Linked DNA regions of Homo sapiens. The protein of the gene in region 3 interacts with the protein of the main gene of each other region in a pairwise test. Each region holds a gene or a part of one and is shown on either strand. Other genes may lie near its edges.

What was found.
Region 1: the proteins of CRY2 (region 3) and TTC1 interact in a two-hybrid assay, tested with the Homo sapiens proteins (one study listed by BioGRID).
Region 2: the proteins of CRY2 (region 3) and PPP2R1B interact in a two-hybrid assay, tested with the Homo sapiens proteins (one study listed by BioGRID).
Region 4: the proteins of CRY2 (region 3) and CLOCK interact in a two-hybrid assay, tested with the Homo sapiens proteins (one study listed by BioGRID).

What each region holds. Positions count from the first base shown.
Region 1 is NC_000005.10:160,062,969-160,066,960, forward strand, and holds the end of TTC1 (tetratricopeptide repeat protein 1), read left to right. Parts: intron 1-573; exon of another isoform or gene 574-688; coding exon of another isoform or gene 689-705; intron 706-1,963; coding exon 1,964-2,097; 3' UTR 2,098-2,575; downstream 2,576-3,992.
Region 2 is NC_000011.10:111,744,973-111,750,011, forward strand, and holds part of PPP2R1B (serine/threonine-protein phosphatase 2A 65 kDa regulatory subunit A beta isoform), read right to left. Parts: intron 3,043-5,039; coding exon 2,982-3,042; intron 1-2,981. UniProt on the Homo sapiens protein: The PR65 subunit of protein phosphatase 2A serves as a scaffolding molecule to coordinate the assembly of the catalytic subunit and a variable regulatory B subunit.
Region 3 is NC_000011.10:45,867,482-45,872,520, reverse strand, and holds part of CRY2 (cryptochrome-2), read right to left. Parts: intron 4,910-5,039; coding exon 4,769-4,909; intron 3,016-4,768; coding exon 2,704-3,015; intron 2,469-2,703; coding exon 2,317-2,468; intron 2,192-2,316; coding exon 1,989-2,191; intron 1,680-1,988; coding exon 1,587-1,679; intron 430-1,586; coding exon 290-429; 3' UTR 288-289; intron 1-287. UniProt on the Homo sapiens protein: Transcriptional repressor which forms a core component of the circadian clock.
Region 4 is NC_000004.12:55,535,993-55,541,031, forward strand, and holds part of CLOCK (circadian locomoter output cycles protein kaput), read right to left. Parts: intron 247-5,039; exon of another isoform or gene 184-246; intron 1-183. UniProt on the Homo sapiens protein: Transcriptional activator which forms a core component of the circadian clock.

The DNA of each region.
Region 1 (3,992 bases), on a different chromosome or scaffold from region 3:
TGCCTTGTGCAGGCACCCAGGGTTTATGCCAGTGATTTCCTGACACAAGCAGCAGCACAGAACGTGTGTGTCCCAGGTTTAGGTTTGGGAGGCCTGCCTGGAGAACAGCCATCCCAGGTTCTGGGAGCTTTCTCAATTTACTGTTTTATCCAAAGATGGGTTGGCCTTTCTCTGGACATAGTGAGCTTCCTTGGGCTAGTTCTTAAGCCTGAGACTAAAAGTTCTCACCATGAGTTATTAGGGAGGCCTGTAAAATGTAAAGGCCATGCGTTTTTTTTGCTCTGTTACCCAGGCTGGAGTGCAATGGTATGATCATGGCTCACTGCAGCCCTGAACTCCTTGGGCTCAAGCAATCCTCCTAACTCAGCCTCTGCATAGCTGTGACAACAGGTGTGTGCCACCACACCTAGCTAATTTTTAAATTTTTGTAGATACAGGGTCTCCCTATGTTGCCCAGGCTGGTCTCAAACTCCTAGGCTCACATGATCCTCCTGCCTCAGCCTCCCAAAGTGCTGGGATTACAGGTGTGAGCCACTGCACCCAGCCAAGGCCATGCACCTTTAAGTTCTTTACCTGGGCTTTACTCTAAGATGGGAGGCCTCAGAGTGAGAAAAGCTGCTAAGAAGTGGGAAGGAGCCTGTACCTCTGGTGATTAGGGATTTCTCTTTTCGTCCACCCCCATTCTCACCTCCACTGGAAGTAGACCTGTAAGAAAAATTAAAGCAGTTTAGAAAGGGTTGAAACTGTTTATTCACCCATCCCTGCCAAAATTTTCTGGAACATTCCTAGTTTCAGATGTTCCTTATATCTTAAAACAGCATAAGAACTGTTTTTTGTTTTTAAAAAAAAAATTTGTAGAGATAGAGTCTCACTGCGTTGCTCGGGCTGGTCTTGAACTCCTGGGCTCAAACCCTCCTCTTGCCTCAGCTTCCCAAAGTGCTGGGAATACAGGCATGAGTCACCATGCTTGGCAAGAACCGCTGGCTATAGACCATGACTTTTTTTTTTTTTTTTTTTTGAGACGGAGTCTCACTCTGTCACCCAGGCTGGAGTGCAGTGGCGCAATCTCAGCTCACTGCAACCTCTGCCTCCCAGGTGCAAACGATTGTCCTGCCTCAGCCTCCCTAGTAGCTGGGACTGTAGGCGTATGCCACCACCCTCAGCTGATTTTTGTATTTTTTGTAGAGATAGGGTTTCATCATGTTGGCCAGGCTGGTCTCGAACTCCTGACCTCAGGTGATCCACCCATCTCGGCCTCCCAAAGTGCTGGGATTACAGGCGTGAGCCACCACGCCCATCCTATATACCTCACCCAAGTCGTGTAAATAAAGCCTGAAACTTGGGAAGAGGAGGCTGGACTATTGAGGTCTTATTGAGGTTGCTGTGCAAATCAAGATGATCCCATTTCTAAGAAATGGCTAGTCTGGTATAGAAGCTAAGGATTTGTTTAGGAAAGCAGGAAGCTCTTGAATATGAATCCAAGCTCAGTGGAAATGGGCTGAGTTGAATTACATTTAGCAGGTGGCTGCTGCCGTTCTAGAGAGAAGAGACTTGGAGGGACCTCTGCCCTCACTACCAGGCAGACCTGGCTTGGCAGGGTGCCTTGAGCCTCACTGGAACAGCAGTTGGTTTTCCCAGAACTCACCCCAGAAGCCTGTGTCCTCTGATAGCACTGGCCAGTTAGGACAGGAGGCTTTGATTCCCAGAGAGAGCCAGCAGGACTCCACTCTCATCTATGCAAGCACAGGCTGAGGGTGGATGGCATTAAAGTGACTGCACTGCTGAGTGGGGAATAGGGGCTGGGAACTCTCCTGGAAGCTTTCATCATATTAAAAGTAGGCATTTCTTTAACTGCAAAGAGATACTTTTATATTTTGTACTCAGTGGTAAGGCAAGATTAATTGGTACCTTCCTGCTTCTGTTCATTCCTGTATTCATTTGAGTTTTTGCTTTTACATTACAGGTAAATTAAAAGATCTTGGGAACTTGGTTCTCCGACCTTTTGGGCTCTCCACGGAAAATTTCCAGATCAAACAGGATTCCTCTACCGGCTCGTACTCCATCAATTTCGTTCAAAATCCAAATAATAACAGATAACAAAGATAACAAAAGCTTTACAAGCTGACTTGGAATTGTGTGCTGCTTGCTGTTAGCTAGGGGAAAGGCCCTGCCAATGTTTAACTTTTAAAAGCATCTTATCTAAAAGAAAGGCTATCCAGTAGAGCCCAGTGCTCCCTTGTCCCTCTTTTATGATCAGGGTGAAATGTACTTCCTGATGTAATGAACCTAATTTGATTTCCATTTTAAGGTGGTGTCTGTGCAGCTGGTGTCCCCGATTCTGGCTGTCCTATGTCCAGGAAGAAGCCCATTTGTTGAGGCTGACCTTCCTGATCATACACACACACAGCCCAGCAAAAGCCTCTCCTGAACCAAACAAACCTGTTGGTTGGGAGACTGCCCAGACATGATTGATGACGGGTTCCCGCCTGCTGTCCCCTCCCTGATCACACAGCTAACGAGGCTGCCTCCAGCATTTCCTGATTTCCTCTGTGGTAATAAAAGCTTTCTGTGCTTAGGTCTGGGTTAGGTTGTGAATTTTGTCACGTAACGACAACTAAGGCAGAAGCCTTCTCTGGCTTTGGGAGCAGTGTTGGTTTCAAGCAGGGTTACTGATTCCAGATTCCACAGATCTGCCCAAAGTTTTTGTTGCCTTGAAGATTTATCTTGAAGAGTTGACCATTCTACCATGTACTAGAATTCAGAAAGTCCACCTTACAAGCTATCTTGGGCCCCTCCAGGTTTGTATAGATAATTATAAATCTGTGTTTGACCAAATGTTAATATTTTTAACTTAAAATAGCTTCATTGAGGAATGGTAGTATATGAACCCCAGAACAAAACCATATTCTTTTAAACTACATGAACCTAGAGGTGTCAAAGATAGAATTTTTTTGTGCTCATCAGTTGATGCTAGTGAGAAGCTTGCAGTTGCTCTGGTTTGAGTCTCAAAAGCTTGACATGCAAGTTTCATCTTGGATGTAAATTACACATATAATTCTGTAAGTGACATGCAGTAGTCAGTCATACTCCCAGTGTTAAGGACTATGTGGTTCTTCTCATCTGTTCCTAAAAGCTTTTTATCTTTTTTCTTCTTTTGGTCAAAGTGAACCTCAGAAGAAACTGTTAAATCTGGCATCCAATTTTCCTGAAAATGTGTGTGTGAAAAATCACACAAGTTGTATGGAAACCGTGTGGAATGCTGGATGGTCTGGTAGTCAGTGTTCGGTGCTTCCTGTGCAGCCAGCATTATGCTAGAAAGTGGTTCTCATTTTTTTTTTTTTTTTTTTGAGGGGGGTCTCGCTCTGTCACCCAGGCTGGAGTGCAGTGGCGCAATCTTGGCTCACTACAACCTCTGCCTCCCAGGCTCAAGCAATTCTCCTGCCTCAGCCTCCAGAGTAGCTGGGATTACAGGCATGCACCACCACACCTGGCTAATTTTTTGTATTTTTAGTAGAGACAGAGTTTCACCATGTTAGCCAGGCTGGTCTTGAACTCCCGGCCTCAAGATGATCCACCCACCTTGGCTTTGGATTACAGGCGTGAGCCACCGTGCCCAAACTTTTATTTCAGCAGCCCTTCATAGTCTGGAAAAAAAAATTTTAAGAGCATTTCCATTTATGTGCATTCTATCAATATTTAGTATATTAAAAATTAAGATAGAAAGTGTTAAAGTAATCCCTTTGAAAAATAACATGTTTCCTGTTACTATAAATACTTTTATGTCAGGCCAGGAACGATGGATGGTTTATACCTGTAATCACAGTACTTTGGGAGGCCAACGCAGGAGTATTGCTTGAGGCCAGAGATCCAGACCAGCCTGAGCAACATAGCAAGGTTCCATCTCTACAAAAAAAAGTTTAAAAAAAAAAATTAGCTAGGCGTAGCGGCTTCATGCTACTTGGGAGGCTGAGGCAGGAGGATTGATTGCTTGA
Region 2 (5,039 bases), about 66 Mb from region 3:
GTCTTTGGCCCAAACCCTTCCCTGTCCTCCCCACTAAAGAGGAGCTAGCTAGAGTATTTGTGTCTTCTCCTCTAATTTTTTTTTTTTTTTTTTTTTTGAGACAGAGCCTCACTCTGTCTCTCAGGCTGGAGTGCAGTGGCGAGATCTCGGCTCACTGCAACCTCCGCCTCCTGGGTTCAAGCAACTCTCCTGCCTCAGCCTCCTGAGTAGCTGGGATTACAGGCGCCCGCCAACACATCCAGCTAATTTTTGTGTTTTTAGTAGAGACAGGGTTTCACCATGTTGGCCAGGCTGGTCTCGAACTCCTAACTTCAAGTCATCCACCCGCCTCAGCCTCCCAAAGTGCTGGGATTACAGGCATGAGCCACCATGCTCAGCAAATTACTATTTTTTTTAACACGCTTTAGATTTTTATCATAATGCCATTACCATAGGAAGGGATCTCTACTGCCAGAAAAACCAGAGACTGGGGAACACACATGCATAGCCTTGACCAAGACCTTAACTGCACTGAACTCTACTTGGCCAGATGCCTACTATGTTCTTGGTTCCTCTGACTGTTTTCAGAAGAATGCAAACCATTCCAGAGTTCTGCCTGTTTTCTTTTGTCTATTTCTGTCTCTTTCTCTCTCCCCATCTCCTCTCAAGGCCTGGCTGACCTGCAAGGTTTCTTTGAATGTCTATCTATGCTCAATAACTGATACCTTCTCCTTTCTCCTATAATAAATAAATAAATTTCCCTTCTACATTCCTCCCTCTGATCAAAACTGTCTACTCAACCACAGGAATATAGGTGAGTGATACTTTCTTCCTTATACTTCTCTGGAATTTTCACAATGTTCTTTTAGTAGTTACCTAACTAGGGGAAAAGTTTCAAAAACTCTAACTGATCCAGTGATCATTATATAACACTTATCTGAAATGCAAAAGCAAAAAAGCTCCTGTGATTAAGTACAAAACAATTTCAGAGCTGTTATTTCATTGGTTCATGGAACTCTTGCAGTCCCCACTTCAGCATGCTGCTGCAGTGAAATAAACAAGGGTTTCTCCTGCTCCCAAACTGAAAGAGAAAATCCGAAAAGAGGAAGGAGTAATCAAGTTGCATAGAGAAGACAATCTTACAGAGAAAGGGTGCCAGGAATTTAATTCTTTGTGGAATATTAGAACTTTAAAAATTCCTCAAAATAAAACACCATCTTAATCTAAAATGCCAACTTTTAAAGAAAGCATAGAATGACTTGAGGCCAACCCAAATGCCCATCAATGACAGACTGGATAAAGAAAATGTGGCACATATACACCACGGAATACTATGCGGCCATAAAAAAGGAATGAGTTCATGTCCTTTGCAGGGACATGGATGAAGCTAGAAGCCATCATTCTCAGCAAATTAACGCGGGAACAGAAAACCAAACAGTACATGTTCTCACTAATAAGTGGGAGTTGAACAATCAGAACACATGAATACAGGGAAGGGAACATCACACACTGAGGCCTATCAGGGGGTGAGGGGCGAGGGGAGGGAGAGCATTAGAACAAATACCTAATGCATGTGGGGCTTAAAACCTAGACGACAGGTTGATAGATGCGGCAAACCACCATGGCACATGTATATCTATGTAACATAACAAACTTGCATGTTCTATGCATGTATCCTAGAACTTAAAGTAAAATAAAATTTAAAAAAGCACAGAATGATTTGCTAGGATGCACCATTCCCAGTAACGTCAAATATTTATCAGATATAACATAAACATTTTTTTTAAAAGTGGTATTTCTTTCCTATGATTTGCCAAATTTTAATTTTATTTAAAAAGAAATAAATAGGCCACAATAAGATAACTTTAGAGAAGAAAAAGAGAAAGAAGTCTACAATCCAGTTTGAAAACACTGGAAATACCCACATATATAAGCCCTTATACATTTTCACATATTTTTTCACATCCTTCCTCTTCACACTCTTAACCATATGATCCTCCATATGATGCAAACATGCCTTTAACAAAACCACCCACACGTATAAGCAGACACAAATATCCTCATTCCTCCCAAATTTCCAGGCATAAGCACCCATAGATGAACAAAGAGATACACTAAATACATATATCAAGTATATAAAAGATACTGTGGAACTGACTCAGGTTATCTATTATATCCACCAAAACATGGAAACAAAGCTCAAGGACAATGTCACATGACCCCATAGGGGCACTCACACTCATCGAAACAGGTCTAAGACAACACTGAAGCTGTCAAGTCTGGACCTGGGATCTGGCAGAGACGGTACATCTGTCACCCACTGCTGCCTGGCACACAAGGGGATACACACATATACCTCTACCTGAAGCCTCACCAGGAAGTCACTTGCTCATTCCTGCTGTCCTATCTGACCTGCCCTGAGCTCACCCTCTCCTAGCACTGTAGCAGCAGCAGTGAGAGTACAAGCAGTAAGCCTTCCTTTCACCCAAACCAGAAATCCAGGCCCTCTCTCTCCCTATGGCAAAGCTAGTGTTTCCCACACCTAAGAATCCTCTACTGTCTCACTGTAGATCTCCTCTTCTATGTCACCTCAAAAAGCCAAGTAGCCATTTCTCCCACCCAGGCCTTTCATCTGATTCCAATCTCCATACAACCTAGTGTATAGCTGCTGAAGACACCAATTACAGGATGGTCAAAAAGAGGATCTTCAGATAAGGGAGGAGTAAGTAGATATATAAAAGAGATGGTCTGAAGATAATGTAATAGATTGAGTAAGAAAATAATGCAAATAAATTGTTTAATGGAGAAAATAAAATCGAAGATACAAAAAATTGGTAGAAACGTCAAATTTATATTCAGAAGATTAAACTTTAATTAGAGCCTTTCTTCATTCCTACAATATTAAGGCAAAATATCTGGTCAGACTGAGATTCCTTTCTAAAAGGAAATGTATGAAAATCATGGATATATGGGCTTTCAATAATCTGTTTTTATCTACTCACCATGGTCCACGAGCCAAGCCATACATAAAGAATTCAGCTTTTCATCAAAGAATTCCACACCCTACAGATACAGAAGATTCCATTAACATACATTGCCAAAATTCAGAAATAAAGATGGTCTATTTACATTACACCAAGGTTACCTGAAGGCTAAAAAAACTTGTTTCCAAATAAACAAATAAGAGATAGAAACACCACAGGAATTACAAACAAACCATAAATCTATTTATTGGACGGAAATCATAAACAAAAAAAAAGCATACGTGAGCTGGCATAGGCCCTGCTAGGTAAAAGAGAACAGGGTGGCCAGAAGTCAGCCACAACACTGCAAAAGAGCAGGAAGAATGCACTGTGTATGGTCTGCCAAGCAAATCTGGATTACCTGTAAAAATGAATTACCCAGGAAAACACCTGTCAGTAATATTACTAATTCTCAATCGTCTTCCCTTTTTGGTTACTATTATGACAAATCCTTAAGGATAAAGCAACTGACCTCAAGACATAGAGATATCCCCAGTTAAAGAGAGTATTTTCGAGACAACAGGAGAAAGCCCTGGAGGGAGAATAAAGCAGGCCCAGGACTACAGGGCATATGGCCCAGGCATGGCTTGCTCTCCCAGCCCTGTTCCTCCCGACTGTCAACAGGTGGCCACTTCAGTGCAGGCTGGGGATGGGCTCCGGGAGCAGATTTACACAGTCCTCTAACCCCGGGGCTTCCACACCACATGGAGAATGCTGTGACACACTTTCCTAGTGCCTCCCTTCTGGGGTCTACACATTTACAGTCTTGCTTCTTTGAACTCTAAGAAGTTCCTGACTGGTGATTCTATATTTTAAAAAAAGAGAGGTAATATAATGTGTCAGTGCTTTGAAAATAGTGATTGAATAAGACAAAATAGCTTTTTTTTTTTGAGATGGAGTCTCACTCTATTGCCCAGGCTGGAGTACAGTGGCACAATCTCAGCTCACTGCAACCTCCACCTCCCGGGTTCAAGTGATTCTCCTGCCTCAGCCTCTCAAGTAGCTGGGATTACAGATATGCAGCACATGCCCAGCTAATTTTGTATTTTTAGTAGAGACAGGGTTTCACCATGTTGGCCAGGCTGGTCTCTTAACTCCTGACTCAGATGATCCGTCCGCCTCAGCCTCCCAAAGTGCTGGGATTACAGGCATGAGCCACCGCACCTGGCCCAAAATTGCTTTGTACTAAAAGATCATAATGAACAAATTTTGGCATACACTTAGATTACGTCAGCCAAGATTTCTTTTTCATTTCAGGTTGAGAATTTTCCTTCAGTTTTAATTAACTTTTATTTTCCAGTTTGTTGTTGTTGTTGTTGTTGTTGTCGAGACGGAATCTCTCTCTGTCGCCCAGGCTGGAGTACAGTGGTGCAATGTCAGCTCACTACAACCTCCGCCTCCTGGGTTCAAGCAATTCTCCTGCCTCAGCCTCCCAAGAAGCCTCCCAAGTAACAGGCACCCACCACCACACCCGGCTAAATTTTTTGTATAGTAGAGATGGGGTTTCACCATGTTGGTCAGGCTGGGCTCAAACTCCTGACCTCAGGTGATCCACCCACCTAGGCCTCCCAAAGTGCTGGGATTACAAGCGTGAGCCACTACGCCTGGCCTATTTTCCGGTTTTTGTAGTTTAACTTTACACTTACTTAACATCGTCCACAAGCCAGGTCATACATAAAGTCTTGAGAGAATTTTATAAAATGACTATCTGATATAAAAATATTTAGATATGAAGAGAAATTAAGGAGAATATATATACTAACAAGAAGTTAAAATTGTAAAGCAAAATGTTCATGACTGAGGCATGTCACCCCTGCCAGACAGGTGTAAGTCAGCCAAAGACACCATCTGCCTTGCTTTCACACTGCTCTCTATAGAGCTAGCAACCCTGGGAAACTTTCCAGGTCTAGAAGGAGCAGAGGTTAAAAGAAATGGTACTAAAATGCACCCTCCCTTCCAGATAGTTTTGGTCTTCAGCAAATCAGTTAATCACTGCTCCTCTCCACTCTGAAAAGTAGATCCATGACAATCACCAGT
Region 3 (5,039 bases):
GATCCTCCCACCTTGGCCTCCCAAAGTGCTGGGATTACATACATGAGCCACCATAGCCGGCCCAATGGTAAAGGTCACACAGATATCAACCAGAAAGTACTCATTCCCTAAGCCAGGATGGAACCCGGCTGCCACTGTAAAATGGTAAAGCTTTAGTGGCTGAGCATTGGGTGGTCCCACCAGATTTTCATCTAGTTTGCTATGTTTCAACCTGCAGCTGGCAGGGCAGTAGGCCCCCCCACTCCCAACTTCCTTCCTGAGGTTGAATCTAGGCTGCTGTCACTCACTCTCAGGCATCCTTGCTCGGCAGCTCTGGGGTTGGCAACTCTGCCACCCGGGCCCGTTTGCTGAGTTCTTCACCAGGTGGTTCCTCGGCTGCTTCCAGCTTGCGTTTGGGGGATGCTGGGCCACTGGGTAGTGGTCTTGGGCCTGTAGGGAAGCGTGTCAAAGGGTCACACAGACTGTGCATGCAGCCAAAATGATCCCACACTATGCAGCAGCAGCTCTTTAGGGGACAGGGAGCACACTTATCAATGGAATGCCAGCATGCTGCTCCTCAGACCTGCCCCTCGGCCTTGCTTTCAGCAGTGACTTTGCCTGGAAATGTCCAAGGAGGACATGACCAAGCAGGCCTGCTGGTAGCAGGACCAGCTTTTGGGCCCCAAATGGCATGGGCTGTGGCCAGAGACTGATTTGGCCTGCCTGCTGTCCTGCTTTGAAGGTGAGGCATTCCCTCTGCAACCCTGAATCAGCCTCCCCAAGCAGCAAAGAGCAGGGCCCCTGTGGAGGAGTCATGCTGCCCATGGAGGCAGCCTAGCTGGGCCAACTAGAAAAACCCGTGTTCTTCCCATCTCATGTTACTCATCTTCATCCCCAAGAAGGGAAGAGGCTCCGAATGCAGCGAATCTGTCCAGTCTTTCTCCTTGCGGCCACCACCCTGTCTGTGCTGCCTCCTCTCTGGCCTCCCTGTGCCCGCTCCGGCCTACACTGTCCAATCTCCACCCAGCAGGCCAGGGAGCTTTTTCAGACCTAAGTCCAATCATGCCCTGCCCTACTGACCATCCTTCAGTGCACTGAAGGCTGAATCCTAGTCCTCGTCTCGGACATCAGGCCTGCCACATGCTGCTCATGCTGTATCTTGTCCTCATCTCATTCCAGCTCCTCACTGGGACATGCCGCTACACTGACCTCCCTTCGGTTCCTTGAATGGACTAAGCTCGGTACTGTTTGTGAGCTTTTTCTTGCTACTCCCTTTGTCTGGAATGTTATTTTCTCAGTGTGTGGCAGGGCTGGCTCCTGCTCATGACGTGGGTCTCTGCTTAACAGAGGTGTTCCCTGACTGCTCCAATCTCAAGTGACACAGAAGAAATCCTTCTTTCCCAGTCCCTCTGTCAAGATACTCAACTTTCTTTTCCTCCAAAGCACTTGTTATCTGAAATGATCCAACTTGGTTTCTTTACTATCTGACTGCCCCAGGTGGAATATAAGCTCCACTGGGCAAGGCCTCCTTCTGGCCTCAGTCCTGAATGACTGAAGTGGTGGCACAGGCCACAGGAGGCCACAGGAGGTTGGTTGCTGCTGCTCACCTGCACTGCTCATGCTGCCAGCCTGGCTCGAGCTGGGCTCTGCCACAGGGTGACTGAGGTCTTCCACACAGGAAGGGACAGATGCCAGTAGACCTGGGAGAGAGGCGAGGAGTAATCAGAGTGCCGTCTCGCAGGATTGCAGAGGGCTACAGGGCAGGATGAAGCAAGTGGGGGTGGGGAGGGTAGGAGCAAGACACTGAGGTTCCATTTCCTCCCACAGCCCCACAACTACTCAGGAAGGCCCAGTTCATCCCAGCCTGCAGTGTCCCATACCCAGCGAAGGTGTCAACCTGAAAGACAGCACTCAGTCTCCCTTTGCAAGTATCTGGACATCCCCATCTGGCCCCCTGAGCCTGTAGGTGCTGTCCTTCCCTTCAGTGAGCTAGGTGTTTGTCTCCTTACAGAGTCCCCGGTAGCGCGAAAGCTGCTGGTAAATCTGCTTCATTCGTTCAATGTTAAGCCGGCTGGTCTCGGCATGGTTGACGATGGGCCGTGGGTAGTCCACACCAATGATGCACTTGGCTGCCTTCTGAATTGACTCTGGGGCATTCCAGGGCTCATAGATGTATCGAGAGGGGAACGCTTTCAATTTGGGCAGGTATCGCCTGAAATAAGATACACCAGATGACCCATCAGCATACCCAGACCCTCCTTCAAAAGGCCCAGGGTATCCCATCCTAGTAGGAGGCCACAGTGGTCAGAGGCCAGAGAGCCTGGTCTGTATCCTCACCTGATGTAGTCCCCACTGGGGTCCGTGCGACGGCCAAAGCCCACAGGGCAGTAGCAGTGGAAGAACTGCTGGAAGAAAGCACTGCAGGACAGCCACATCCAGCTGCCTGCGTTCACGCTGAAATCTGCATCCAGGAGCAGCTCATCAAATACCTAGATAGGGGAGGGGATGATCAGCCTCCTTGGGGACATGCAGCCATGTTTTTTCCCAAGTCACCACAGTGCCCCCAGGAGCCAAAACCCTTCCATTGAAGGCAAGCCACAGAGGATCTGGAGGGGATCTCCTGGACCCAGAAATCCCACCTCATCCCTCAGCCCAGAAGGGGGCTGCCCTTTGACGGGCCTGACCAGAGGGTACAGGCCAGCTTTTCGTTGAGAGAGCACTCACCCGGACCCCGCTCTCCCAGCTGACCCAGAGGTCCCCGCGGGTCAGGAAGCAGGCCACGGCATGCCGGGCCAGGTGGTGGATCCAGCCCTCCTGCCTCAGTTGGGTCATGATGGCATCAATCCAAGGGAAGCCTGTCTTGCCCTCAGCCCACTTGGCCAGGGCCTCAGGATTGCGGTCCCAGGGGATCTGGATGCAGATGGGGTTCCCCTCCATGCGGTCAAACCTGGGGTTGTTGGTAGCTGCCGTGTAGAAGAACTCTCGCCATAGGAGTTGCCCAAATAGGGAGAGGGGAGGTGTGCTGTTCCGCTTCACCTGAGAGGTAGGGGTGGCACATGGATACAAACACTCGCCCAGCTCTTAGCATGGTGCCTCTCAGGTCTCTTCTACAAAGGAATCTGGGCCCTCCAAAGACCTAGTGGCTCAGCTGCCAGATGTGGAGGGACTATCCCCTAGAAGTGGCACAGCATGCCTGCATGTGAAACACCCAGGCCCTGCCTGCACTGTGCCACTGCTCTGAGCAAGAAGAAAGCTACAGAGGGCCAGGCAGTGGGAAGGGGCCTCACCACAGGACTCTGCACTAGGATTCAAACTTCCCAAGACTGGTCATGTTCCTTGTCCTCAAGAGTTCCCTGTTTGGCTCCACCTTCTAGAAAGTCAAAAGGAATTTTCCTATCAGCACACATGAAAAATGCTCAGTCTAGATTTTGGTTGAATAAATTATACACACAGCCTGGATCTGGGGCCATAAGGTAATTAAGAAATCAGACCTCCAAGCAAATAATGACTTCCCTAAAGTCACAAGATTACTCACCAAACTGGCAAAGCTATCCCATGCCACAAAATCTCAATAATGGCAAGGATGAGGAGATAACATTTAAAAACCTAGATACAGCCAGGTGTGGTGGCTAGCATCTGTCACTTTGAGAGGCTGAGGTGGGTGGATGGCCTGAGCCCAGGAGTTTGAGATCAGCCTGGGCAACATGGAAAAACCCAGTTTCTACAAAAAAATACAAAAAATTAGCCAGGTGTGGTGGCATGCACCTATAGTCCCAACTGCTGGGGAGGCTGAGATAGGAGGATCACCTGAGCCTGAAAGGTTGTGGCTGCAGTGAGCTGTGATCATACCACTGTACTCCAGCCTGGGTGACAGAATGAGATCCTGTCTCAAAAACAAACAAAAAAACAAATGTAGACACAACGGCTAGGCATGGTGGCTCACGGCTGTAATCCCAGCACTGTGGGAGGCCAAGGCAGGACAATTGCTTGTGCCCAGGAGTTCGAGACCAGCCTGGGCAACATAGCAAGACCCTATCTCTACAAAGAATGTAAAAAATTAGCTCTACTTGAGAGGCTGAGGCAGAGGGATTGCTTGAGCCCAGGAGTCTGAGGTTTCAGTGAGCTGTGATCAGGCCACACTACACTCTAGCCTGGGTAACACAGCTAGACTTTGTCTCTTAAATAAACAACAGAAACAAAAAACATAGGCACAAGATGAGGTGATCCCTCTGAATGCTGACTGTGTTGCCCTCTCTCCTTCTGGGGACAGTTAACACAGGCTTATTTGCTTCTTGTCTGTATAGCACAGCCCTGTGTGCAGCCCCTCCACACCACTCCCTCCATCACTGATGGGCAACTGCTGTTCCTGGACTCCCCTTTTGAATGCTGTGGACACAGCTCCAGAGCGGGCAGCTATGCTCTTCCACTTCAGACTGGCTCCAGCCTCACCCTCTCCATGCCTCTCACCCTGGGGACCTCGCCCCTGTCCACCAGCTGCCAGAGGATATGCCACCTCTAGGGTCACACCTGAGGCCTGCTTTTCTGCCTGTCCTTCTGCTCTACATGATGGTCTGGGCTTCATTCTGGTGGGCAGTTCACTCTGTGCTTGGCTCTGCCCTCTTGGATATTGAGTCTTCTCTCCTCCTCCGGACTATCTGCACACACTTAGGCCCTTCCAGGGGCCATAGCCCAACCCCCACCCACCAGTGCCTTTTTTAGGGTGACTGACAAGCCCAAAAGGCCTGGCTGCAGGCCTTAGGTGCAATGTGGGCAGGTATGTCCCCCTTACCTTTTTATACAGGTCCCACAGGCGGTAGTAGAAGAGGCGGCAGGAGAGACAACCAAAGCGCAGGTAGGGGCTGAGGCCTGTGGGGCTGGCCAGGAGGGAGTTGGCGTTCATTCGGGGTCTCTCATAGTTGGCAACCCAGGCCTACAGCAGAAAGAGAAGGTGGCAAAAGGAAAGGCTTGGATGTAACAGAGGAAAAAATGGAGGCATTGGGTGGTTAAGGAATCTGCCTACGGTCACAGAACAGCCAGCCATGGAGCCATGGAACACTGTG
Region 4 (5,039 bases), on a different chromosome or scaffold from region 3:
GTGTTCACACAGGGCTGGAATAACAACACTAGGAGACTAATTCTCCTAAAAAGTTTCACGCAAGGACCTCAAGCTTAAAGGTGGTATCTCCCCTCAGCATACTTGCTGAATTTTAAAACCGTGCAGGGTAAAAGGCTACAAAGTCAACTAAAAAACTTTGAAAAGCAAAGTGAAATTTCCTACCTTTGGCATTGCTAAAGGGACAAGACCAATAGGCTTTGAAATGAATGCCTTAGAAGACAACATCTGAAAAAACAAGGAAAAATAAGGATAGCAAACTATTAAAATAGCAACCCAGCCTCCACATAATTTAAGATGATGGGCTCCTGATATGGGTTGGATGCTTGTCCCCTCCAAATCTCATGATGAAATGTAAATGTAATTCCCAATGTTGGAAGTTGGGCCCAGTAGGAGGCAACTGGATCATGGGGGCAGATCCCTCATGAATGGTTTAGTACCATCTCCTCGGTAATAAGTGAGTTCACACAAGATCTGGTTGTTGAAAAGTCTGGGACCTGCCCCACCTTGCTCTCTTGCTCCCACTCTTGCCTTGTCATGCACCTGCTCTCCCTTCACTTTCAGCCATGACTAGAAACTTACTAAGCCTCACTATAAGCAGATGCCGGCACCATGCTTCCTATACACTTTGGAGAACCGTAAGCCAATTAAGCTTCTTTTCTTTATAAATTACCCAGTCTCACGTATTCTTTTATAGTAATGCAAACAGACTAATACAGCTCCCTAGCCTATCTGCATAGAAAATGAACTTCCCCTTCCCCCACCCCTCTCCCAACCCGGCAAAATGTACCATTACCTGGTAATGCTTACTTAAGTTTTTTACTACACAATGCCTGGCATTCAATAAAAAATTATGAGACATAAACAAAACAATCAACAGACTTGACCTAACTGACATTTGTAAAACACTCCACCTAACAACAAAACACACATTCTTTTCAACTGCACATGAAGAACACTTACAATGATAGAATATATTCTAGGCCATAAAATAAATCCGAATAAATTTAAAATTATCTCATTACAATGGAATTAAATTAAAAATAACAATGATCTCTGGAAAATCCTCAAATATTTGAAAACTATATAACACACTTATAAATAAACTATAGACCCAGTAAGACATCAGGAAAGAAATTATAAAGTACTCTGAATGGAATGAAAATGGAAACATATCAAAAACTGGAAACGGCCAGGAGTGGAGGCTCACATCTGTATCCCAGCACTCCAGGAGGCCAAGGAAAGAGGATTGCTTGAACTGAGTTCAAGACCAACATGGGCAACACAGTGACATCCTTGTCTTCAGAAAAAATTGTAATAAACTCTGGCCAGGTGTGGTGGCTTACACCTGTAATCCTAGCACTTTGGGAGGCTGAGGCAAGTGGATTGCCTGAGCTCAGGAGTTGACGACCAGCCTGGGCAACATAGTGAAACCCTATCTCTACAAAAAATACAAAAATTAGCCAGGCATGATGGCACGCGCCTGTAATCCCAGCACTTAATAGACTCTGGTGCGAGGATCTCTTGAGCCTGAGACGTCGACACTGTGGTGACCCCGTGATTGGGCCACTGCACTAAAGCCTAGGCAACGGAGTGAGACCCAGTCTCAAAAAAATAAAAATAAAAATAAAAAATTAGCCAGGCATGGTGGCACATGCCTGCAGTCCCAGCTACTCAGGAGGCTGAGGTGGGAGGATCACTTGAGCCTGAGAGGTCAAGGCTGCAATGGGCCATGATCACGATACTGTACTGCCTGAGCAGTAGTGAGACCTTGTCTCAAAAAACAAATAAATAAATTATAAACAATTAAAGGGAAGTTTATAGCATGCTTACATTAGAAAAGAAAAAAGGTCACAAATCAATGACCTCAGCTTCTATCTTAAGAAACCAGAAAAAGAAAACAAATTAAACCCAAAAGTAAGCTGAGGAAAGGAAATAAAGACCAGGGCGGAAATAAGAAAACCACAGGCAGTCAATTAAACTAAAAGTTAACTTTTTAAGAACCTCAATAAAATTAATAAACTTCTAGCCAGACTAATCAGGGAAAAGGGGAGCAGAGACAAATTACTAGTATTCGGAATGATACTAAATCTCTACAGGTTATACAGATATTAGACTCATTACACTTTCTACAGATATTAAAAGAACAATAATAGAGTATTATAAGCAACTTTTTGCAATAAATGCAACAAGTTAAATGAAATGGGTAAGTTCCTTCGAAAACTTATCAGGCATGTGAAGAGACGGAACAATACAACCATATGACCAATAACCAACAGAAAAACAAACAAGATAAACAGACCAATAGATGATGCCGATATTGGAAAAGACAAGCATTTAAATAACTATAATTAGTATGTTCAAGAGAACTGGAGTCTATTACAAGTCTATAAAACAACATCAAAGGAATACTCTAGAACTCAAAACCACAATGTAAAATTAAGAACACAAAAGATTATTTTGACAAAAAGAGAAGATAGTTTTGGCATACTGGAAGGCAGGTCGATAGAAAATATCCAAACAGAGAAAAAAATTTTTTTCAACATGTGGAACATGATAATTAAGTTTAATATATGTGTAATTAGGATCCAAAAAGAAAAAAGGGGCAGAATATATGAAAAGGTGGTAACAGAACTTTCCAAAACTAAAAGGCATCCAGCTAGATTCAAAAAACTCTATAAACATAAAGCAACAAAGAAAACCACATCTGAACACATCAAAGTGCTTTAAAAGTAACACAGAGAGTCTTAAAATTAGCCAAGGAAAAATAAAAGACACATTATCCTCAGCAAGAATATAGCTAATACATTGCCTTCAATAAGACTGGTAGCTGACTTCAACAAAAAGAAAGGAAGACAGAAAGCAACCAAACATTCTTAATGTGTTGAAAGAAAATAACTACCAACTTAGAACTTAATAGCCAGTGAAAACACACTTCAGGCCAGCCACAGTGGCTCATGCCTGTAATCCTAGCACTTTGGGAGGCCAAGGTGGGCAGATCACTTGAGGCCATGAGTTTGGAGACCTGCGTGGCCAACATGGCAAAATCCTATCTCTACTAAAAATACAAAAAATTTAGCTGGGTATGGTAGCACATGCCTGTAATCCCAGCTACTCAGGAGGCTGTGGCATGAGAATCATTTGAACCCAGGAGGCAGAAGCTGCAGTGAGCTCAGATCACGCCACTGCACTCCAGCCTAAGCAACAGAACGAGACTGTCTCAAAAAAACAACAACAACAACAACAAAAAAAACACCAAAAACCACTTCAAAAAAGGTGAAACTGCCGTGCATGGTGGCTCACACCTATACCCAGCACTTTGGGAGGCCAAGGTGGGGGGATCTCTTAAGCCCAGGAGTTCAAGAACAGCCGGGGCAACATGACAAGACCCCGCCTATACAAAAAATTTAAAAATTAGCTGGGCATGGTGGCATGTGCCTGTGGTTCCAGCTACTGAGGAGGCTGAGGTGAAGGATTGCCTGAGCCCAAAAGGTTGAGGCTACAGTGAGCCATGTTCACACCACTACACTCCAGCCTGGGTGCCAGAGTGAGACCTTGTCTCAAAAAAAAAAAAAAAAAAAAAAAAAAAAGGTGAAATTGAGATATTTTCAGAGAAACAAAAATAGAAAAAATCACTGATACTAGGTAGGCCAGTATCAAAATGCATGATATAGGGAAGTGACAGTATTATTATCCTAAAAATTGAAAACAACTTCAATGTCCAACAGAAGATTGATAAGTAAATTATTACACAGAGATGAGAATGTTACATACCTACTAAAAATAATCACATAGCAGAAAAATACTGACATGAAAATATGTTGATGATTCACTGTTAACTGAACAGCTTGCACTGCAGTGGACTACATTAGGAGCCCATAACATCATATAAGTATACATATACTTATGTAATGGCTCAACAAAATGCAGGAAGCAGATAGATAATCAAGAAGATTAACAACAGCACTTTCGGTGGTATGATCTCCAATGATATTAATTTTTTTTTTTTTTTTTTGAGACTGAGTCTTGATCTGTCGCACAGGCTGGAGTGCAATGGCGTGATCTCTGCTCACTGCAACCTCTGCCTCCTGGGTTCAAGCAATTCTCCTGCCTTAGCCTCCCAAGTAGCTGGGATTACAGGCACCCGCCACCATGCCCGGCTAATTTTTGTACTTTTAGTAGAGACAGGGTTTCACCATGTTGGCCAGGCTGGTCTCAAACTCCTGACCTCAAGTGATCCACCCACCTCAGCCTCCGAAAGTGCTGGGATTACAGGTGTGAGCCACTGTGCCCTGCCTAAAATGTAATCTATGCTTTCTTACTGTTTCCCACATTAGGGATGTGCTATTTTTTAATTGGGGGCAAGAGAGGAGGGGAGAGGAGGGGAGGGGAGGGGAGGGGGGAATGGAGAAAGGCAACTCTTTACATTAAACCATATTTTAATACAAATGATAAGTTCTTAGCTAGGCATATGGTCTAACCTTTATTGGTATATCCCCCATGTGTGCTTTTTAATTTTTTTTTGATACCAAAACCTGCCAACATGAATCAACCTGTACTTTCATTTTCCACTATTTGGACCTTGAGAGCTTGCTCGAAGGTTCTAGCAGGGGAGCGCAGCTGCTCGTATACCCTTGACCCAAGACCAGTCCTCCTCTATTTGGGATGGTTGTCCTCTTCAACCAAGCACGCAGCTTCAGCTTCAGGAGGGACGCACGTGGAGTGGAGAGGGAGGAAGGGGACACCTGCCGAGCCAGCCAGATGAGCTGAATCAACCCTGGGGATCAATGGGGTAACATGTCACAGCCAGATAGCCCTCACATTCAATTTTCCACTATTTGGGATGAGAATTAAAAATGTTAAGTACCTGAATGTGACCTCTTTGAAAAAGAAACTTAATCGTCGTCATTATTAATGTAAAAAATGAAAATGTTTCTGAAAAATGAAAAGCAAATTATATCCGAAACAGCATACTTTAAAAGACAAAGTAATTCATAAAATTTCATTTTTCACAAGTGATT